Linked DNA regions of Homo sapiens: regions 2, 3 and 4 are each linked to region 1. Evidence: fine-mapped expression QTL. A gene starts in region 1. Each other region holds a variant in brackets. All regions are shown on one strand. Distances are between the middles of the regions. Region 1 holds the start of BICC1 (BicC family RNA binding protein 1). Region 2 overlaps BICC1 (BicC family RNA binding protein 1). Region 3 overlaps BICC1 (BicC family RNA binding protein 1). Region 4 overlaps BICC1 (BicC family RNA binding protein 1).

The links. PIP is the estimated chance that this variant, and not a neighbour inherited with it, causes the effect. A credible set is the group of variants that fine-mapping cannot tell apart.
Region 2: its variant is the best candidate, but not a certain one, in a credible set for the expression of BICC1 in blood mononuclear cells (TOPMed, PIP 0.53).
Region 3: its variant is the best candidate, but not a certain one, in a credible set for the expression of BICC1 in sun-exposed skin (GTEx, PIP 0.55).
Region 4: its variant is the best candidate, but not a certain one, in a credible set for the expression of BICC1 in blood mononuclear cells (TOPMed, PIP 0.61).

What each region holds. Positions count from the first base shown.
Region 1 is chr10:58,509,918-58,515,729 of GRCh38, forward strand. BICC1 (BicC family RNA binding protein 1) reads left to right here and starts at 2,955. Exons shown (of 21, transcript NM_001080512.3): 1 at 2,955-3,416. The coding sequence starts at 3,227. It overlaps LOC124902427 (a long non-coding RNA gene), which reads right to left and starts at 2,135. Exons shown (of 2, transcript XR_007062147.1): 1 at 1,743-2,135.
Region 2 is chr10:58,588,867-58,594,678 of GRCh38, forward strand. The region is part of intron 1 of BICC1 (BicC family RNA binding protein 1); the gene reads left to right. Among named protein-coding and RNA genes, the nearest start is that of BICC1, 79 kb to the left of the region's middle. The variant C/T (reference allele first, on the strand shown) is at 3,037.
Region 3 is chr10:58,615,909-58,621,720 of GRCh38, forward strand. It overlaps BICC1 (BicC family RNA binding protein 1), which reads left to right. Exons shown (of 21, transcript NM_001080512.3): 2 at 4,947-4,993. Among named protein-coding and RNA genes, the nearest start is that of BICC1, 110 kb to the left of the region's middle. The variant G/GT (reference allele first, on the strand shown) is at 3,112.
Region 4 is chr10:58,558,554-58,564,365 of GRCh38, forward strand. All of the region lies in intron 1 of BICC1 (BicC family RNA binding protein 1), which reads left to right. Among named protein-coding and RNA genes, the nearest start is that of BICC1, 49 kb to the left of the region's middle. The variant T/C (reference allele first, on the strand shown) is at 3,174.

The DNA of each region.
Region 1 (5,812 bases):
TTTAAAAAGTCACATTCCTTGGTTCCCTTTTCTTCTAAGTCTCTTCTTTTTCCCTAGACAGTCTGACCCAGGTAGATGGCTAGAATTGTTACCTATAAACAAGTAACACATTTTAATCTCTAGCCAAGATTCCTTTACTGAATTCCAGACCTATTCAATTGCTAACACAACATCTCTTCTTGGAGATCTCAACATCATTTCAAACTCAAAATGCCGAATTCAACTTCATGAACTTTCTTCCATTGTGATTTTCTTTCAATATTCCCAGTTTCAGTTAATGACACCTATCTCTCTCTTATTATGTTAGCCAGAACCCTGGAGATATTCTCAACATTTCTCTTCCCATCACACTATTTCTAATTCATCACCAATCTACTTGGTGATACTTACTGTTTAAATATTTCTCAAATCCTCTCATGTCTCTCATCTTCACCACCTATGTAAGCTAGCAGCATTTATTATCTAAACTTCCCATATAGTCTCTTAATTGGTCCAACTGCTTCTATCTATCCTTGTCCCTCAGTCTGTTCTCCACACTAGAGCCATAGTCAACTTTTGAAAATGCAAATCTAAGCACATCTTTCTTTACTTACAGCCTCTATATGATTTCCTTTTATTCTAAGGATAAAGACAAAAACTCCTTAATTTGACCTATGCTGCTTACATATGCCCCCTCTTACTTATAACTCCTGCCCCAGTGAGTCCTAATTCCTTGTTTCCTTGTACCAGCTACGCTGGCCTTCTTTTAGTTCATCCAATGGGGGAATGCATACTGCCCCCTTCTGCTACAGTGTCTTTACTTGTGCTAATCTTATTGAGAGCCAATATAACTTATTGGCTAAGCATAAAGCACCTGAAGCCTAATTTTCAAGAGACTGCCTGGGTTCAAATTCTTATTCTTCAACTTAGTCGTGCAACCTTGAGCAAGTCATTTTACCTTTTGTGCCTCAGTTTCCTCAACTCTAAAATGAGGATAATTGTAGTATCTACCTTCAGGGATGTTACTATGATCAGATGATCATTTGCAGGGATGGCTCTTCCTTCCCTTGCCTAGTTAACTTCTCTTCCAACGTCTGTTCTGAGTTAGAGTCACTGTTTCGAGAAGCCTTCACTGACCTCTCTGACTGAATCCAATTACTCTATCATAGGTTTTCTCATATCTTGAGTCTCTTGTTTGTAATGCTTACTGCGGGCATGATTTTATATTTGTGATTTATTTTTTGGTCAGTATTCCTTCTCATTAGAATTTCAGCTCCAGGAGGGAGTACAGGGATGTGTCTGTCTTTGCTTACTATTCCTTGGGCTTAACAGTGCCAAGTACATAGTAGGGTCCCAATAAATATTTGTTGATAGAAAAACACAGTAAATGTCCCTGATGGAAAACAGTGGGAATGCTCCTACATAAACCCTTTGGGTGCTGAAACTAGTGCCTTGGATAGAAATTAACAGTAATTAACAAGTTTATAAAAGGAACACATGGTGGTGAATCAGAGCAGTTAAGTGTGCAGATGCTCTCAGTTCTTCAGGAGGTGACTCTGGGCAGGAGGGGTCTCCGCTCAAAAAGGTAAGACTTTATATAAAGACCCACAGACCTGGGTCTGATTAATTGGCTGTATTATCTGCTGCTGGACAACCTTAGTCAAGTTACTTTATTTCCCACGGTCTCAGTTTCCTCATCTGTACCCATCACAGGGTCAATTCCTGTTAACTAGGCAGCTGAACCTGAAATAATTTTGATTTACCTTCAGCATATTCCATGATTATCCAGAGGCCTGTGCCAGTGATATGGCTCTTCCTACATGTGAGCCAGGCAGCCTCCTTCTGTGGCGCAGTGACAAACTGCTATCCCCATCATTCCTCCCCGCAAGTCTTTGTACTTTGGGTCATAAAATAATAGGCTATGAATCTGTGTGAACTGGGAAAACAGAGTTCCAAGGGCACACCCAGTACGAGCGAGTCTCCTCTTCCCCCGCGCTTCATATCCAAGCTTGACAGAGGCCGTGGGTGGGCTGGCCCTCGGCAGTGAGGCTCAGAGGTTACTGGCCGTCATCTGTCAGAGACTGACCTTGAAAACAGAGAAAAGCCCTCAGTCCCTGACAAGACAGCCCTGCCCACGTGCCAGCTGGATCCAGCTCGCCAACACAGCGATCTCCGAGCCCCTTTTCTACTTAAAAAAAAAAAAAAGTCTGCTGAGTCCATTCCTTGAGAATCACAGAGAAAACAATTCCTTCCTTACTCCATTCAAGAAAAAAAAAAATTCCCTTTCTCAGAATAAAAAGAGTAAGCCTCTTGTCCACCTCTCGTGCAGCGGGCCACTTTGCTGGGAGGAGACGAGGTGTCTGGGTTTGAGCCCTTCCTGGAGGTATGAACTACATGCGAGCCACGTCCATGGCGATGCCTGCGAAAGACGGGCATGATTTCTTCTCCAAGCCTTCTTTTTCCTCTTCCTCACGTTCGAGCTTGTGGAACCAACTGGGGCTGTGAGTTTCAGGGTGTAGGGTATGTATGTAAACAGCGGAATTGTGTATGCGCTTAGTGTGCGTTCAGGACTCTGCTGTGCTTGAACTTGGCGTGTTTGTGTTTGTGTGTTTGGAGGATTATGAGAGCATGTAGGGGGAAGAGATTTGTATGTGTAAGTGCAGAAAAGTAGTAGTGTGTGTGATGTGTGTGTGTAGACAGGAATTACGTGGATACTCCATGTGCGTTCAGGAGTGTGTGTGTTTGAGGAGCTATGAAAGTGCATGTATGGAAAGGATTTATACGTGTAAGTGCAGAAAGTGGCAGTGTGTACGTGGTGTGTGTGTGCGCGCGCGAGTGTGTGAGCGCCAGGGGCCGCCCGCCCGCCGCGGCTCCCCGTGGGCTGGCCGGGCCAATGAGCGCGCGGCTGTAGGGGCGGCGGGCGGGGAGGGGGCGCCGAGCCCTGCGGATGGAGGCGCGGGCAGCGCGGCGCGCTCATTCCGCGCGGGCGTTGCTGGCGGGGGGCGGCGCAGCCACTGGACCCGGACCGGGGCCGCGACCCGGGGTGGCGGGTGGCGTGGGCGGCGCCCGGGGCTGGGATGCGCCGGGGGCTCAGTGGCGGCGGCGGCGTTGGCGGTGGCGTCGGCGGCTGCAGGGGGACGAGCTAGCGCCGCGGCGCTGGGAGCCAGTTGAGCCCGGCCGGCGAGCGGAGGCGGCAGCGCAGGCAGAGCGGCGGCGGCAGCGGGAGCCCGAGCGCTGCGCGCCCACCATGGCCGCCCAGGGAGAGCCCGGCTACCTGGCGGCGCAGTCGGACCCCGGCTCCAACAGCGAGCGCAGCACCGACTCCCCAGTGCCCGGCTCCGAGGACGACTTGGTCGCCGGGGCGACCCTGCACAGCCCGGAGTGGAGCGAGGAGCGCTTCCGCGTGGACAGGAAGAAACTTGAGGCCATGTTACAAGGTAGGCATCCCTCGTGTTCTCGGACTCTCCGACTGAGCCTCTAACTCCTTTTCGGACATCCCCACCGCGCGCTCCGGCGCCCGCTACTCCAGCCTACGGCCGGCCGGTTTAGCTCCAGGCCCGCTCCCCCGCGGAGCCGGAGGACACCCAGGGACTGGAGACTTCGCGGGACTCCCCACCCTTCCACGCCTCTCAGATTTCCAGGCGCTGGGGGCCCTGTGCGAACTTGACTGGCTTCAGAAAAGCCGAAGGCCGAGTTTGTACTGGCGCGCCCAAGTTGCGTTCTGGACTTTGGAGATGCCAACTTTAGCCCGGACACCTGGGCTGTGCCATCCGGACCACTCGGGCCGCACAGAGTATGCGTGACCCTCCCCATTCCCTGGCAGCCTCGAGTTCTGTCTCTCTCCGTCTGTTTCACTCTCTCCCCTTGTCAGTATCCACTTCCTCCAGCTGAGGGGCCTTGTCTCACTATTGGGAAACGCTCTGCAGATGTCAAGGCTTAAGACAGGAGCTCCCGCCCCCACCCCTGTGGTCAAGGAGGGCCAGGATCGGGGTGAGCAGCCAAAGCGAGGGGGGAGTGTGGAGGCAGTGCTGCTGTGTTTGAGGACAGTGTTCATCTCTTGACAGGCTTATAAAACACATCTTGAGTTACATTCAGTCCATAAAAATCTTCCTATGCTATGGGTGTCTGACTTTGTCTTTCACAACTTAGAATTATTTTTAACTCTTTAATTTCTTTGGGACTTTCCCAGGTAGAAAATCTTCAACCATACTGGACCGAAAACAGATTCTGATTTATAATACGAGTGTTGGAGTGAACGTCAAAACGTCCAAGGTCATTTTGACCTTTCTTAAAACAGATAATTACTAGCCTACCTGTAGCCACCGATGTGGCTCATTTCCCACATCCAAAGAGAGAAATGAGTTAGTTTGAATGACTGTTATTCTTAAAATACGTGTACGGGACCAGGCGTTAGTCTCACTTAGGGCGCTGGTGAAGATTCATTCAGTAGCTAGTGTTCTTTTATCATGGAGGAGTTTGGAGTTTTTCAAACGTTATTTGTGGCTTTATGCATAACTTACTTTGACTTTATCAGTCAATGCATCGCAGTATGGGAATGATTTAGCCCTCTGTGGAAATGCAGTGGCTTTTTAGAACAATTAAGCAGGTTATTTTAAGAGAGAACAACATGTTTTCCAAAACAATAACTTGGTGGAAACAAATAGCAAGAGTGTTTGGCAGACGTTTTTTGGATGTGCTACAGGCTTTCCTCCCTTGTTGCTTATTTTTATTGACAAACATCCCTAATGTGTGTCATGTCTTTCTCTGTCTCTCCCCTTCCCTCTCTTTTTTTCTCAAATTATGTAACTTTTGAGGACAGTTACTTCTGTGATAAACTCTTCAAGTAAGACCGTTATAAGATAGATTTGGAAATTAAAGCCCCAGTTGCATTTCAGTAACTCATTTCAGTTATTTCGTCTGTTCTGTGGTTCTTTTTGCCTAGTTTATGATTATAAAACAAAATATTAAATTTATGTCAGGCATATATTGTGAGATCGTTTGGAATGAACTGATAGTAGCACATACTCATCCTTTTCAACCAGCTTTCAGTTTTCTACATTAGTTTGGAGTGATATGAAAGAATGATCTGTTTCACCTGCGCACAAACAAGTAAGGACAGTGATGTTAGCTTCTGGGAAGTTCAAGTGTATAACCTGAGCTTTAGAAGTGAATTTCCTTTTTTGATTTAATTCATTTTCACTTCGAATAAAATGAAATTTTGAGGAGACTTTTTGAAAATTTGAAGGCTCTTTTGTATTAATAGATGTGATACTACGATCTGAGACGGTTTGAAATTGCTTTGCAGTAATAGTTTCTTTTACAGAAAGTCTTAACATCTCTTGAACAACCGATATACAGTCATGCAGTCCATGCTTAAGGACTACGACTGGGATACCTTGTTAGAAATGTGTCCTTAGGCATTTTCATTGTGCAAACATCATGGAGTGTAGTTACACAAACCTAGGTTGTGTAGCCTGCTACACCTACTACCTAAGCTATATGGTATAGTCTATTGCTCCTAGGCTACAAATAATGTTACTAGGCTACAAGGCGTGTTACTATACCCAATACTGTAGACAGTTGTGGCACAGTGGTATTTGTGTATCTAAATATATCTAAACATTGGAAAGGTAATGTGTTATGTTACTATGGCTATGACATCACTAGGCGATAGGAATTTTTCAGCTTCTTTATAATCTTACGGGACCATTGTAGTGTATGTGGTTAGTTGTTGACCAAAACACAAGTGTGAGCACTGGGATCACTAATACCTGGGTTCAAAACTCTGTAGGATCTCAGGAAAGTTGCTAGGCCTCTCTTTGCCTTCAGTTTG
Region 2 (5,812 bases), 79 kb after region 1:
ACTCACCATCCTGTGTCAGGATGGCTACTGCAAGCACCAGGTAGAGTGACCAGCTGTCTCCCTTTGCCCTGATCTCAGGGTTGTCCAGAGAGTCTGAGTTTTTAGTGCTAAAAGGAGGGTGAGTTGGTCACCCTAGTCCCTGTGACTGCTGTCCAAGGACACCGGCAGCCAAGGAACCTCTCTCACAGTGGATGCTGCCCTCTACCGGTGACACCGGTGACGGTGATTGGTGGGTGAATACCATCTCTGCAGTCTCCGAGAGTTCCCCTGCAGAATTCGTCCTGTGGCCCACAGAGAGAACCCACTCACACGCTCATCCATGTAGGATTCCCTCTTTGCTCTTTTGCATTTCACTTTCTCACCTCCCTACCAGCGCCTCCGGGGATCACCTTCTGCATAAATGACTTTCACTCAGGTACTTGTCACAGGGTCAGCTTCTGGGGGAATCCAGTCTAAAACACATGGGTAGAACTGCTTTACTACCATTTCACATAAGAGGAAACTGAGGTGTGGGGAGGTTAAATAATTTTGCTCAAAATTGTACAGCTGGCACACAGAGCTAATAATTCTTAGTTATTAAGTTATACAGCTTTACTTTTTTTTTTTTTAGTTTTTAATTTTTTGAGACAAGATCTCACTTTGTCACTCAAGCTGGAGTGCAGTGGTGCAGTCATGGCTCACTGCAACCTTGAATGCCTGGGGTCAAGCTATTCTCTTGCCCCAGCCTCCCAAGTAGCAGGGACTAGACGTGCATGCCACCATGCCTGCTGATTTTGTTCTTTAATTTTTGGTAGAGACAAGGTCTCGCTATGTTGTCCAGGCCAGTCTTGAACTCCTGGTCTCAAGTGATCTTCATGCCTCGGCTCCCAAAACAATAGGATTACAGGCATGAGCCACTGTGCCCAGCCATTACAAATTTTTTAAATTATTATTATTATTTTTTTTAGTGATGGGGTCTCATTATGTAGCCCAGGTTGGAGTGCAGTGGCTATTCATAGGCATGGTCATAGTGCACTGCAGCCTTGAACTCGTGGCCTCAAGCGATCGTCCTGCCTCAGCCTCCCGAGTAGCTAGGACCATATATGCACACCCCTTTGCCTGGCTTAAGTTATACAGCTTTTGTTCCTATCCTCACCCATGTGTATTTATTTCCAGGAAATCTACAATTTCATTTATTCATATGGGATTAACAATAAGCTATCATCAGTCCAGTGGGGTTATGAATGGTATGTTATTATTCTATCTCTACTAAATTCATTGAGCATGGAGCAGAAGTCTTGATTTTAATGGACTTAGGGGAGTTTGATGGGACTGTTTTTATGAAGGAGAAATTTGTCTTTTATACATAAGTTGCCAAAACCAGTGCTGTTGCTGACTAAGGACTAAGTGCCTATCCCTTGCCTAGCTATGCGCAGTCTGGCCTTGACTGGAAGCAGGAATCGTGACATCTCTGACCAGATTGGATGTAAACTGCCTGCTTGTGCTAAGGAGTTGTGTCTGCTGGTTCTTGGCTCCCATCCTAGAGTTCTCTATGAAATGACTCATTATAAGGAAGTCTATTAAAAACAAATCTCTCCCCATTTTAGAGTATCTCTTAAAATTTCTTCTTAATAAGAGAATTTTGGTGCTTTCAGTTCCAGTTAGTGCCAAGAAATTTGAAGTGTGTATTGAAGAAGGCTATGATAATTACAGTACTTGAATTTCTTGTAAAGATAGATGCTTTGGGAAGTGAGTGTATTTCCCTTTTATTTGAAAGACAGAAGCTTGGAAATTCTACCAGACTTAAAAAAAAATTTTTCTCTCACTGCAAATCCACAGCCTAATGGAAAGTGCTCCAAGTTTCTCTAGTGAAAGTGGCTTCACTTACCTCAGCATTTAAGATCCTTCCCCATTGTTGTAGTTTTATAGGTATTTTAGATTATCTATTTAAAAAGGCAGCTGCCTGTCAAATGATCCACATAAATAAAATAAGATTGTGCAGAAGTGTAGAATATAACCACATGCCAATCCTTAGGAAACAGTGGGAAATGTTTTACTTTAAAAATGTAGGGTTTTGCTTTTACAAAACTGATCTTTGACCACCGGTTCTCTCAGGCTTTGCCTTTTCTAGTTCAATGATCTTTTCTACTAGTTCCCCCCTCCCTTCCCTCAAAGGCCTGAATAGACACTTCCCAGTTTGGGAAATAGACCTTCATTAGTTACACCTGGCTCAGCATTTTTTTTTCTTTTCTGCACATCTGCTTAGCATCATGTATTTGAAGGTGCCACATACATGTTTGCTAACGTTGCTTTAGATGCTGTTGAGTCATAAGAAGATAAGCAGTGCTAGGGAGGATTCAGTCCAGCTTGATATTCTTCTCCACAAGTGTGACTTGGGTAGGGAAAGGGGGACACTTTCTTTGGTCAAGACGGAAAAACAGATTCATGTTACCTGTCATTAGCATAGTAAAAACTATGGGAAATGTCTTAGTCCATTCCGGCTGCTATAACAAAATACCATCAACTGGGTGGTCTATAATGAACAAAAATTCCCACTTCTGGAGGCTGGGAAGTCAAAGATCAAGCGTCTGGCCTTCAAAGATGTGCCTTCTCTGTAACCTCACATGATGGAAGGGGCAAAGGACCTCTCTAGGTTCTCTTTTATAAGGGCACTAATCCCACTCTTGAATGCTTCCTCACATGACCTAACCACCTCCTGAAGACCCCACCTATTGATAAGTATCATTACCTTGGGAGTTAGGTTTTCAACATATGAATTTTGGGAGATACAGGCATTCAGACCACAGTGGAAAATTAAGCTTAACTGATGGGGAGATTTAGGAGATGCAGTGAGAGAGCTTTGTTGTGCTGTGTGCTCTGTTCTCTCAATATTATGATTTTAGGAAGGCCATTGCCTTCTCAAGAGTTTAGGTATGTGCTGCAAGCACTCAGCTTTTTATAATTTACATCCTTCCTCTACGGATGGTTGAATGAATGAATTGCTCTGAATTCTTGTACCTATTTCTATTTCTGGCCTGTGCAATTGAGTTTAATGTT[C/T]GCTAACCACATATAAAGTTGTGCTTAGCAATGTTTCTCAAGTGGTGTTGTTTATTGTTTTTCTAGATTATATAGAGTAATACAGAATATACTTTCCAGAATATGACACATCTTTGTATTCTCTCCATACCTTTTATAATTTTATAAATGTGATTTTATAATGTTTTTAACTTATCCTTGCTGCAATGAAAATTTCCACAACAAAGTTTATTAGAGGAAAAACATACATTTTACTTACTGTATTAATTACCCTTATTTGAAGACGGTTTTTTGTTATGTGTTGTGATGAGAAATAACAAGCAGTATTCCCTGTATAGCCGAGTATTACTTTTGGCTAAAGTTAGGATAATGTTCTTTGCCCTATTTTGTCATTGCCCATTTTTTCTTCTTGTTAGGGAGGCAGAGGTGGTGGTGGAGACAACTGGGAACAGCTAGAACTGAGTTAATATCTTTAGAGAATAGTCTGCTATGACATTGTTTTTGTTTCCCTCTATAAACCCTTCAAATAATTTTTAAGAAATTCCTCTGGGCCAGTCGCAATGGCTCAGACCTGTATTCCCAGCACTTTGGGAGGCCGAGGCAGGCGGATCACGAGGTCAGGAGATCGAGACCATCCTGGCTAACACGGTGAAACCCCGTCTCTACTAAAAATACAAAAATTAGATGGGCGTGGTTGGTGGCGGGTGCCTGTAGTCCCAGCTACTTGGGAGGCTGAGGCAGGAGAATGGCGTAAACCCAGGAGGCGGAGGTAGCAGTGAGCCAAGATCATGCTACTGCACGCCAGCCTGGGTGACAGAGTGAGACTCCGTGTGAAAAAAAAAAAAAATAGCTGGGCCTGTTGGCGTGCACCTGTAGTCCCAGCTACTCAGGAGGCTGAAGCAGAAGAATTGCTTGAACCCGGGAGGTGGAGGTTGCAGTGAGCCGAGATCGCACCACTGCACTCAAGCCTGGCCACAGAGCAAGACTCCGTCTCAAAAAAAAAAAAAAAAAAAAAAAAAAAATCCTCTGCATTGAGAGCCAAGTGTTCGGGCTCGGTGGGTCTTACCCTGACAGAGCCCAGCACACTAAGATCCACTGGCTTGAAATTCTCGCTGCCAGCACAACAGCAGTCTGAGATTGACTGGGACGTTCGAGCTTGGTGTGGGGAGGGGTGTCCTCAGCAATGGTCCACCATTGCCTATGCTTGAGTAGACTGTTTTACACTCACAGTGTAAAAAAAGCCACTGGGAAGTTCGAACTGGGTGGAGCCCACTGCAGCTCAGCAAGGCTGCTGTGGCCACACTGCCAGATTTCCTTTCTCTGGGCAGGGCATCTCTGAAAAAAAGGAAGCAGCCCAGGTCAGGAACTTACAGATAAAACCCCCATCTCCCTGGAACAGAGCACCTAGGGAAGTGGGTGGCTGTGGGCACAGCTTCAGCAGAATTAATGTCCCTGCCTGACAGTTCTGAAGAGAGCAGTGGACCTCCCAGCACAGTGTTCAAGCTCTGCTAAGGGTCAGACTGTTTCCTCAAGTGGGCCCCTGACCCCCTTGTATCCTGACTGGGAGACACCTCCCAGTAGGGGCCGACAGACACCTTATATAGGAGAGCTCTGGTTGGCATCTGGCAGGTGCCCCTCTGGGACGAAGCTTCCAGAGGAAAGATCAAGCAGCAATCTTTGCTGTTCTGCAGCCTCCCCTGGTAATACCCAGGCAAACAGGGTCGGGAGTGGACCTCCAGAAAACTCCAGCAGACTGGCAGCAGAGGGGTCTGACTGTCAGAAGGAAAACTAACAAACGGAAAGAAATAGCACATCCACTCAAAGACCCCATCCGAAGGTCACCAACACCAAACACCAAAGGTAGATAAATCCACAAAGATGGGTAGAAACCAGCGCAAAAATGCTAAAAATTCCAAAAACCAGAACGCCTCTTCTCCTCCAAAGGATCACAACTCCTTGCCAGCAAGGGAACAAAACTGGACGGAGAATGAGTTTGACAAATTGACAGACGTAGGCTTCAGAAGGTGGGTAGTAACAGACTCCTCCAAGCTAAAGGAGCATGTTCTAACCCAATGCAGGGAAGCTAAGAACCTTTAAAAAAGGTGAGACGAATTGCTAACTAGAATAACCAGGGTAGAGAAGAACATAAATGACCTGCTGGAGCTGAAAAACACAGCACAAGAACTTCATGAAGCATACACAAGTATCAGTAGCCGAATCCATCAAGCAGAAGAAAGGATATCAGTGATTGAAGATCAACTTAATGAAATAAAAAGAGGAGACAAGATTAGAGAAAAAAGGATAAAAAGGAATGAACAAATCCTCCAGGAAGTACAGGACTGTGTGAAAAGACTAAATCTACATTTGATTGGTGTACCTGAAAGTGACGAGGAGAATGGAACCAAGTTGGAAAGCACTTTTCAGGATATTATCCAGGAGAACTTCCCCAACCTAGTAAGACAGGTCGACATTCAAATTCAGGAAATACAGAGAACACCATAAAGATACTCCTTGAGAAGAGCAACCCTAAGACACATAATTTTGAGATTCTCCAAGTTGAAATGAGGGAAAAAATATTAAGGGCAGCCAGAGAGAAAGGTCAGGCTACCAACAAAGGGAAGCCCATCAGACTAACAGCGGATCTCTCCGTAGAAACCCTACAAGCCAGAAGAGGGTAGGGGCCAATATTCAACATTCTTAAAGAAAAGAATTTTCAACCCAAAATTTCATATCCAGCCAAACTAAGCCTCATAAGTGAAGGAGAAATAAAATCCTTTATAAACAAGCAAATGCTGAG
Region 3 (5,812 bases), 110 kb after region 1:
CTTTTGCTGGCAGAGTTGGATAGGCATTTTTGAATGCACTATGAAAAGTACACACCCAGTCCCTGAGGGATGCAGCAGAAGTAAGGGCCCTCCAGGTGCAGGCTGGGTGCCTGGAGGCCTGGCTACACAGCTCAGCAAAAGATTTAGAAGCTGCCGTAAGTGGGGACCTTCAGGTGCAGGCAGGGTGCCTGGAGGCCAGGCTACAGAGCTCGGAAAAGGAATTAGAGGCTGCTGTGAATGCAGGCCTGGGGCTGTCGTCTCAGCTGGAGACCCCCACTCTGATACCGAGGAGGCTGTTAGTGAGACCGAGGGGTCTGCTCCATAAAGAAGGGGAAGATGCCCTGCCTGCAGGGGTCCCCCCACTGGAGAACAGGGGGCCCCAACAAGTGACATGCTCAGAGATGTGGATTGATTTGGTTTTGGCCAGGATTGACTGAGAGAAAATTGATAAACAGCCAAATGAAGTACTCTTAACTTTGTGCAATTCCAGAAAATGCCCCAATGGGAGAAGGACATTGCTGCACAACCTGGTCCCACCTGGGCGCTTCAGCTCAAAGACTCCGTATGTGCTACAGCCAGGTGGGGGTGTAAAGCCTTTTCTGTATGATGAGGGAACTGGCTGAGGTTCGACTTAGGGGAACACCAGATGACTGGAGGCCACATGTGGAGTTGACAGTCCATTGTTACCCCACCAACATATAGCAAGTGCTGGTGCTGGTAGACACCAGCACAGATAACGTTTTGGGCATGGATATTTCACATGGCTTGGCAGCCATGCTGTCTATCAGTGGGCTTGACAAAACTGAGACAGTACCACTTTGTGGTGGACTTGGCCAATGCATTCTTTTCCAGAGAGCCAGGAGCAGTTTGCCTTCATGGGAGGGCAACAGTGGACTTTCACAGTGTTGCTGCAGGGCTATGTGCATAGCCCCACCATATGTCATGGTCTTGTTAATGATATTATGCTAACTTCTGATTCTCTTGCAGATTTAGAAGTGACAATGCTCCCCTTGCCTAGATTTAAGATGGTGCGGCTGAGACCACCTTCCTGGCAGCCAGGTGGGCTATTCAGCAGGCACAAGCCCTACGGGTAGTTGACCAGGGGTACCTGTTTGAGCTGGATGTGCATGTGACCACAGATAGTTTTGGCTGGGGCCTTTAGCAGCGCATGGAGCGCTTGAGAATGCCAGTAGGCTTTTGGTCCCAACTGTGGAAAGGAGCTGCGCTCCAGTATTCACTGTTAGAGAAGCAGTTAGTAACTGCATATGCTGCCCTTCAGGCTCGTGAGAGTACGGCAGGATGGGCTACAGTCGTCGTGCGGATGACTTAGCTGATAGCGGGATGGATGCATTCATGGATAATGACTCCCTGAAATGGGCTAGCACAGACATCCACTTTAGCAAAGTGTGGTGCCTACTTGGAGCAGCAGAGTACACTGAATACAAGTCCCTTAGCAGCAGAGTACACTGAATACAAGTCCCTTAGCAGCAGAGTACACTGAATACAAGTCCCTTAGCAGCAGAGTTGCAAGAGGTCTTGGGACTTGTAGTCCTAATGGAAGATAAGGCCATGGGGCCTGAGGCACCCCTCCATTCCTGATAGAGCATGGTATACGAATGGGTCTAGCTGGGGTGCTGCTATTGCCTGGACTGCTGTCACAGTTCACTCTAGTACTGACGCCATATGGTTTGATACCAAGTGTGGACAAAGTAGCTAATGGGCTGAAATCAGGACAGCATGAATGGTGATCACCAAGGTGGTGACACCTACGGTAATCTGCACCGACAGCTTGGCAGTTTATTGAGGCTTAGCCTTGTGGTTAACTATCTAAAAGTAACAGAAGTGGCCAGTTGGTCACTGGCCCATATAGGGCCAAGCCATGTGGCAAAACCTATGGGAGGAAGGATGACCTCCTCTGACCAGGTACAGAGATGAATGGTAACCTGTTGTTGCCTGCCCCAGTGCTCCTAAAGGCAGGGAAATAAAAGCTTGGCTAAATGTACAAAGCAACATTGGTGTAATGTCACCATGGGGTGGTTGCCCACCATAACCTGGAGTTGTTTTTCCCTGTATTACTGCTGTGGCCTCTGGGTCCAGGGTTTCACCCTTTGGGCATGTGTCCCCACTAGAAAAACTCCCTCTGCCTAGGGGGTGGAATGTAAGACCTATGTGTTGGGCCTGAGTGTCTGGGGCCTGTGTACCTAGAGCCTATGTGTAAGGTCTTGTGTCGGACCTGTGTGTCTGGGGCCTGGCTTGCATGCCCAGAGGCTATGTATGAGGCCTGTGTGTTGGAGCTGTGTGTCCAAGGCCTATGTCTCCCTTGGCCTAGGGGGTGGAGTGTAAGGAAAATGGATCTGCTGTGGTCAAGAATAGGCCAAGGCAGACATCCGGTCTTGCATGTGAGTCTGGAGTTTGGAGCGCATGTACACAATTCCACTCCTTACATAACCACGTCACGTGAGGTGCATTAGGTGATCACCCATGTGAGGTCGTGCTTGGCTTGGAGCCACTATTGTCTGTAAAAGGTATAATTATCCTGCTGACGCTGTACATATGGCTTGCGCCTGGGTTGGCTCGCGCCCAGGTTTGCACCCACAGTTCACGCCCAGGCTCACTCACACCAAGAGAGAGAATAAAGCCATGTCACAACTCCCCATGATTCCTCGAGTGTTCTTTCAGCTGCTCGTCATTCATCCACCCCCTCCCCTTGGTCTCCCGCTTGGTCTGGAACCTGACACTTGGCGTGACACAGTGTCTGGGTGCAGTTCATCCTATTGATGATGTGGAATTTGTGCAAAAATAAAAGTTAAAAAGACATTAGCATTATAGGTTAGTTTGCTTTTGCTGCTGTAACAAGTTGCCACAGTGTAGTAGCTTAAAACAACAGAAATCTTACTTTTTGGGTCTGAAATTTGAAGTGGTTTTCACTGGGCTGAAAGCAAGGTGTTAGCAGAGCTGTATTCTCTACAGAGGCCATAGGGAAAGATAATTTCTTTGACTTTTCCAGCTCTTAGAGGCCACCTACATTCCTTGGCTCATGGCCTGTTCCCCTGTCTTCAAATCTTTGTCATCTCTGATCTGTCCTTTGTTGTCATGTATCCATCTCTCCTT[G/GT]TGCTTCCATTGTTACATCACTTTCTTGTACTCTGAGCCCCCTCCTTCTTTCATTAAGGACACGATTACATTGGGCCCATCTGGCTAATTCAATATAATCTTCCTATCTTTTTATTTAATCACATCTACAAAATCTCTTTTGCCGTGTAAGATTCCAGGGATTAGTACATGAACACCTTTGCTAGGAGTCATTATTCAGCCCTACCACATATTAGAATACAATTTTTAAATTCCTTTTTAGCCTTTGTTTTTATGTTTTCTCAGATTGCCCTTGGAATTTCCAGAAACATGTACTCTGCAATCTGTTGTTTGGATAAAAATGTGTTGGTAAAAAATACACATTTCTATAAAAATAGAGAAGATGTCTTATATTTAACTGTAAAATTTAAGTTGGTGAAAAAAGAATGTAAATACTTGTTATTTCTTTGAGGGCAGAGAGAATTTCTCAAGTTTTGAATCTTTTTTTTTTTTTTTTTGAGAGAGTCTTACTCTGTCGCCAGGCTGGAGTGCAGTGGTGCAATCTCGGCTCACTGCAACCTCTGCCTCCCGGGTTCAAGCAATTCTCCTGCCTCAGCCTCTCAAATAGCTGGAACTACAGGCGCACACCACCACACCCAGCTAATTTTTGTATTTTTAGTAGAGACAGGGTTTCACTATGTTTGCCAGGATGGTCTTGATCTCTTGACCTTGTGATCCGTCTGCCTCGGCCTCCCAAGTTTTGAATCTTTCACTTAACAATGTCAAAATTATGGTAGATGCTTGTCAAAACTTGCTAAGTGACAAATGTGATTCTTAAGTGATTGCTCTGCCACATTTCTTGGGTCTTTAGTCATTTTAACAAGTGTTCTGGACACACACACATATGCACTTCTGCACACAAACATGGCTGTGCTGAGGTATTACCTAGCAGGTGTTTGGTTTACCGTGGTCTTCCAGACTTTAATTTCCAGTAGTTCTCACTTCAGTACCTTTCTTTGTCCTGGCCAGGCTTCTCTCATTAATCACTATTCCACCTACACCTGAGTCAGAGTCCTGTTTGGCCTTAGAAAGATGCAGTCTGAGTCTGTTGCAAGCAAGATGCTATTGGCTCTTTATCACTTCTCTCCTTTTAGTCAAATTCCCCACCCCTCAAAACAAATGAATACAAAATGTTCATAGTCACAAGACTTATGAACACAGACTGAGAAATGGGTTTGTCTTGTATTTATGGGCTACCATTTATCTATAAAAATGATATGAAAATACAGTGATATTTTAATTAATGTTACATGCAATTTTATTGTTGGCTGTGACCGTCACCATTACTGTTTAATTCTCATGTTTTTTTTTCTCTCTTTGTATATACAAATGAAGGAGTGAATTAAAAGTATATGATGCCAGCTGAAATTCAAGTAGATTATATAGACTTTATAAAGCATAAAATGGAAACAGCTCAGAAGTAGGCCATATACATGAGCCATCTTTGTGCCTGGGATTGATCACAGATAGGAAGTGCTTGGAATGCTACAGTTGATTACTTTGAGAGTTGCATTTATTCATATAGTTCTTTAACTATGAAAGGACGAGATCACTTTCATCATCTAAGTGTGCAGGGGTTTGTGAGTCTTTCAGACAAAGCAAAAGAGTGTTAAATAATCCAGAGACATGTAATTGATGGATTGGATTGCTAGTCTTTACCAGTTTTGCATCCCAGTGAGGCATATTAGCAGGCACTGAGCTGTGGGAGAGCAAGGCTGGCATCTTGTTTGCTTTTGCATTCTCATATCTGATGCTCGAAAGTTTTTTGAATGCATACATTGAAAAAGTATTTTAAATGTGCACATTTTTATTTACAGCTGCTGCTGAAGGGAAAGGCAGAAGTGGGGAAGACTTTTTTCAAAAGGTAAGTTGTCTTTTACTCTTGTCATGGTGATAAGTAAGAGGAAATATACTTATCTCAACAGCTACCCTAGAAGCCACCGAACGCTCCCCTTCATGTGGAGGAGAACAGGTTTCTATACGGGAGCTGGAAACACTCAGAGCTAGCCAGGAAAAGAGGGGATGCTGTATGAAACTTAACCATTCCAAGAAGGCTCCTTCCAGGGAAAATCTAATGAAATTTTTGCTTAAAGGCAAATAAGCAAAATGTAAGAGGGCTCAGAGGTGGATCAATTCATGTGGCATTCACACTTCATTTGGCTGGCATGTGACATAGGAAGGGGTTATTGTGCAAGGTAAGGTACACTATCCTATATGGTGAATATGGTGGGGGAGCTTTTCTAAAGATATTTAAATTAAAACAAATTTTAAAATGTTCTACTGGCCAAATAGAATGTGCCAGACTGCTAGTTTTCCATCCTTTGCTAAATTTATAGGCTCAGGCTGATGCAGTTTAGGTACTGTACCCCCTGACTTGGTGTTATCTGACATTGGTTAATCTCCAACTTATACTGAATACCCGAGCATTTCTAAGTGCCCTGGCCTTAGCTGGGGCAGGCTTAGCAACAAGGGTAAGACAAGAGAAGACGAATAGGCTGGATGCAGTGGCTCATGCCTGTAATCCCACCACTTTGAGAGGCCGAGGCTATCAGATTACTTGAGTCCAGGAATCAAAGACCAGCCTGGGGCAGGGCATGGTGGTGTGTGCCTATAATCCTAGTGCTTTGGGAAGCTGAGGCAGGTGGATCACTTGAGGTCAGGAGTTTGAGACCAGCCTGGCCAA
Region 4 (5,812 bases), 49 kb after region 1:
GAGTTGTTTTCAAATGTGAGGGTAAATCAGGTCCCATTTTCTCTATCTTGGCTGGCAGAGTATGTCTCTTGCCTATGAGATCTTAATCTTAACTCTAAGCAACATTCTTAGTTTCTTAGTTCACAGGTGCTGCTGTAACAAAAATTCCCTAGATTGGGCAGTTTATAAACAACAGAAAATTATTTCTCACGGTTCTGGAGCCTGGGAAGTCCAAGATCAAGGTGCTAACAGTATAGGTGTCTAATGAGGACCTGTTCCTCATAGATGATGCCTTCTAGCTGCATCCTCACATAATGGAAAGGGCAAGGCATTTACCTGGGTTCTCTTTTATAAGGTCACTGATCACATTTATGAGGGCTCTTTCCTTACACTTTAATCACCTCCCAAAGTTCCACCTCCTAATACAATCACCTTGAGAGTATGTTTCAAAAATGAATTTTGAGATGATACAAATATTCAAACCATACAAATATTCAAACCATAGCACTTAGGATTGCCTTTTGTGGTACTTGTTGCTGTTGCTAACTTCATGATGTGTTTTAATTAATAACCACCCCCCCAGGACTTTTACTTTCATAATTGAGCCCCGAAAAATAATGTATTTATATATATTTAGGAGATTTATAATGACTTATCTGAGAGTCTGTAAAATATAGCAGAAATCTCAGTGTTCAGTCACAATGCTGAGAAATACTAAAATTAAAGTTGTAAAGGATTTACAGAACTGAAAAATGGTAGCATGCTTACTCACTTTTTGCATGCTAAATTTATTTCTAGGCATTTGTGTTTTTTTTTTGGTAAGTAGATATTGTAAATGAGATTGCTTTCTTGAATTGTTTTTCAGCTCTTTCATTATTGCTTTATAGAAATGCTACCAAATTTTGTATTTTGATTTTGTGTCCTACACCTTTATTAAATTCATTTATCAGTTCTAAGAATTGGTGGAGACTTTAGGTTTTTCTGTATATAAGATTATATTGTCTGCAAACAGAAACAGTTTGATTACCTTGTTTCCAGTTTGGATGCTCTTTCTGTTCCTTAATTGTTCTGGCTAAGCCTTCCAGTACTATGTTGAATGTGAGTGGTAAAAGTGGATATCCTTTTCTTGTTCCAATTCTTAGAGGAAAGCCTTTCACATTTCCCTTGTTCAGTATGGCGTCAGCTATGGGGTTGTCATGTATGGCCTTTATTGTGTTGAGGTACATTCCTTCTATGTGTAATTTGTTGAGAATTTTTATCATGAAGGGATGTCGAATTTTATCAAATGCTTTTTCTGTGTTTATAGAAATAATCATTTAGGTTTTGTTCATTTTGTGATATATCATGTTTATTGATTTGCATGTATTCCTGGGATAAAGCCCACCTGATCATGTTGTGTAATTTTTTGATGTGTTGTTGGATTTGGTTTGCTAGTGTTTTGTTGAGGATTTTTGCATCTAGGTTTATCAGGGGTTTTGGCTTGCAGTATTCTTTTTTTTTTTGCAGTGTCTTTGTCTCGCTTTGGTATTAGGGTAATGCTGGCCTCATAGAATGAGTTAGGAAGAATTACCTCCTCTTCAATTTTTTGGAGTGATTTGAGAAGAATAAATGTGAGTTTTTTTATAAGTTTGGTAGAATTTAGCAGGAAAGTCATCCATTCTTGAGCTTTTCTTTGTTAGGAGACTTTATTACTGACTCAATCTCCTTACTCATTATTAGTTTGTTTAAGTTTTCTATTTCTTCCTGGTTCAATCTTGATAGGTTGTATGTGTCAAGGGATTTATTCATTTCCTCTAGGTTTTCTAGTTTGTTAACATAAAGTTGTTCATAACAAGCGCTGATCTTTTGTATTTCTGTGTTATCAATTGTAATGTCTTCCTCTTTTATTTCTGATTTTGTTTATTCGGGTATTCTCTCTTTCTCCTGGTTAGTCTATCTAGTGGTTTATTGATTCTGTTTATCTCTTCAAACAACTGTATTTCGATTTCATTGATCTTTTGTATTTTTTTAGTCTCTATTTTGTTTATTTATGCTGTGATCTTTAAATTTGTTTTTCTTTTACCGACTTTGGTAGAAGGAAAGATTTGCTTTTGCTTTTTAAATTCCTTGAGGTTGTTCATTTCAGGTCTTGCCACTGTTTTGATGTAGGTGTTTATTGCTGTAAACTGTTTTCTTAGTTCAGCTTTTGCTGTATCCCATAGATTTTGGTATGTTGTGTTTGTATTTTAGTTTAATAATTTTTTTTGTTTTCTTCTTAATTTTTCTTCATCACTCTACTGGACTCTACTGGTGTTCAGGAACATATTTTCATTTCCATTTATTTGTACAGTTTCCAAAGTTCTTATTTATTCCTAGTTTTATTCTATTGTGATATGATTTCAATTTTTAAAAATAGGTTGAGGCTTGTTTTTGGGTTATTATCTGGTCTATCCTGGAGAATTCTCCATGTGCTCATAAGAATGTGTATACAGTAGCTGTTGGATGAAATGTTCTGTAAATGTCTGTCAGGTCCATTTGGTCTGTGATGCAATTTGAGACTGATTTTTGTTGCTGTTGATTTTTCTATCTAGATGACCTGTTCAATATTGACAGTAGAGTGTTGAAGTCCTCAACTATTATTGTATTGGGGCCTGTCTCTCCCTTTTAATATAATAATATTTAGATCTATTAATTCATGCTTATGTATCTGGGTTTTCCAGTGCTGGGTGCATATATTTACAATAATTATATTTTCTGGCTGAATTGATCTCTTTATCATTATATAATGACTTTTTTTCTCTTTTTATAGTTTTTGACTTAAAAATTCATTTTATCTAATATAAATATAGCTACTCCCATTTAGTTTTGGTTTCTCTTTGTGTAGAATATTCTTGTTCATCCCTTCATGTTCAGTCTGTGTGTTCTTTATAGGTGAAATGAGTTTCTTATATGCATATAACTGGGTCTTGTTTCTTTTTTTAAAAAAATCTATTCAGCAACTCTATATCTTTTATTGGAGAATTGAAACCAACCATTTATATTCAGGATTACTATTGATAGGTGAGAGCACACTCCTGTTATTTTGTTGTTTTCTGGTTGTTTTGTGTATCATTTGTTCTTTTCTTCCTCTCTTATTGTTTATCTTTGGTGGTTTTCTGTAGTGATAGGGTTTGATTCCTTTCTCATCCTTGTGTATCTGCTCTGTCAGTTAATTT[T/C]ATACTTTCATATGCTTTCATGATGTTAAATTTTGTCCTTTTACTTCCAGATATAAGACTCCCATAAGCCTTTCTTATAAGGTTGCTCTAGTGGTAATGGATTTCTTCAGTTTTTACTTGTCTAGAAAAGACTTTATTTCTTCATTTCTGAAGAATATTTTTGCTGGGTACAGTATTCTTTGCTGGCAGTTTTCTTTCAGCATTTTGAATATATAATACCATTTTCTTTTTGCTGGTAGCATTTCTGCTGATAAATTTGCTGTTAGTATGATGGGGAGTCCCTTTTTACTTCATGCTTTTCTCTTGCTGTTTTGAAAATTCTCTCTTTGTTTTTGACTTTTGACAGTTTTCAGTAATGTGCCTTGGAGAGAACTTTTTTGAATTAAATTTACTTAAGGATTTTTGAGCTATCGTATCTTTTCCATGACTTGGGATATTTTCAGCTAGTATTTCATTAAATATATTTTCAATACCTTTTTCCATCTCTTTGTTGAATTCCTATAATGCGAAAATATGTTCACTTATTTGTGTTCCATTGTCTTATTGGCTTTCTCCATTCATTTTTATTGTTTTTTCTTTTTATTTTGTTTGACTTGACTATTTCAAAAGACCCATTTTTATCTTTAGAAATTCTTCCTAGAAAAATCAGTCTCTTCTGCTTGATCTAGTCTATTGTTGAAGCTCTTAATTTTGTTTTCTTATTTCATTCATTGAATTCTTTACCTCAATATTTCTGTTTTGTTCTTTTTTATATCTATTTGTGTTGAATTTCTCATTTAGATCATGAATTGTTTTTGTTTTCATTGAATTCTCAGTCTGTATTCTCTTGTATCTTGCTGAGTTTTCTTAGGATCATCATTTTGAATTCCTTTTCAGGCACTTTATAAATTTCCTTTTTTGGTGTCAGTTACTGGAGAATAGTTTTCCTTTGGAGGTGTCATATTCCTTGCTTTTCACTTCTCTTGTGGTCTTACATTGATATCTGTGCTCACTGCTTCTGATTTTATGTAGTTTTTGTAAGGATAATTTTTTTTTTCTGTTTATGTGTCTTGTAGTGCTGGTTTGGTAGAGTGTTTTCATTTTAGTTCTGGATTGGAACAGTATTGTCTTCTTGTGCTTTCTTTGGCGTATTCAGTGTCAGCTGTGTCTGCAAGTGCCTCAGTGGCCTGGGCTGTGGGTGTTTCTGTAGGCAGTGGCACAGCTTTTTTGGTGTGGGGCCTGCCAGGCAGGCTGACTCTCAGGTCCTTGGGAGCGTATAGGGGCTCCCTTGGTCTTGAGGGTAGTCTCCTCTCTATGCTGGGCCACTGCTTCTTGGTATACAGGTTGCTGTATGGGCTTGCATGCCTGAGTCATTGCCGTACCACTGGGTTCAGGGTGGCATCATTGTGCTGCAGCCTTCTCTGTAGGCATGGTGAGATAGTGGAGGGGTCACAGGGATATGGAATTGCAGGGATATTAGGCCCCAGGGAAAGATGCACTCTGGTAGTAGCTCATCTCTCAATATGGCTCTGTGCCGCAGCAGCCTGGGTCCTGGGGGTTGCGGGGGAGACCCAGCATGAGTTTTCTCTGGGGAGCAGTGCAGCCATGTTAACTTTAGGCAGCTCCCTGTACCCTGACTAAAGTGTACTCCGCTTAGTCCTCTGTGAGGACTGTGGGGCTTTCCTATAGCAAGCATTGCAGGCATCCATGGTGGCAACGGAGGCTACCTCTTACCTTTTCTCCACAATGGAGAGTTCCTCTTGGTTCAAGCCAATCCTTGCTGGATGCTTTACTTCCTTCTCTGTGATACTATCCTGAGTTTTTGTGTCCAGAGGCTTTTTGCCACTTCCTTGCTAACTTGCAGTGTTCTCTCTTAGACATTCTACTCAAAGTGCAGTTATCTCTTTGTTGTTTTGGTTCTTTGTGGAAGAGGCTAGCACTGGACACCTCCACTCAGCCATTGATGATGACATGTTCTTTGCTTTTGACTACATGTACTTTGAAAATCAGAGACAAAGGGGTGTTTTAAAGTTTTCCTTTCATGTCTCTTAGCAACAGCAAATAAATTTTCTTTGGATTGCAATTTTATAAGTGATAAAAATGTTTAGCAATATGATGGGGTGATTGAAATTTCTTGATAAAAGTTGCCAGTTTTTCTAATGTTTGCCGTGAAAAGTAGATTGCATATTTGAGTACTCAAACACATATATTTAATTGCTGATAGTATCCTATGCCACATTTTATTTTGTACGGCTCTTTCTTTTGTCTTTCAAGTAGAAAAATAAAAGTCTTGTGATATTTTGTGATAAATATGTGACCAAAGTTGAAGGAGAGTGAAAGCTGAACACTATATTTTAAGCTAATCTTAATTTAAAATATTTTTTGTTTTAACTTTATATTTTTGTTATAAATTTACATACAACATAGTAATTTTGAGTATTGTTTTGGTCACTCTTCTTTTTCCTTTTCTTTTTCTTGACTGTTTAAAAAATTAAATGGTTTTGAAGGAAAGTCACAGAATGCTTTGCTCTCATTTATTGTTTATTTTCCATGGCTATAAATCAAGTCCATAAATGAGAAAATGGTTTTGGCTTTTTCAGTGAGGCTTGAAGTGCTTGCTGATCATGGTGTCTGAACCAGTGGGGCTGTCCTTGGCTTTA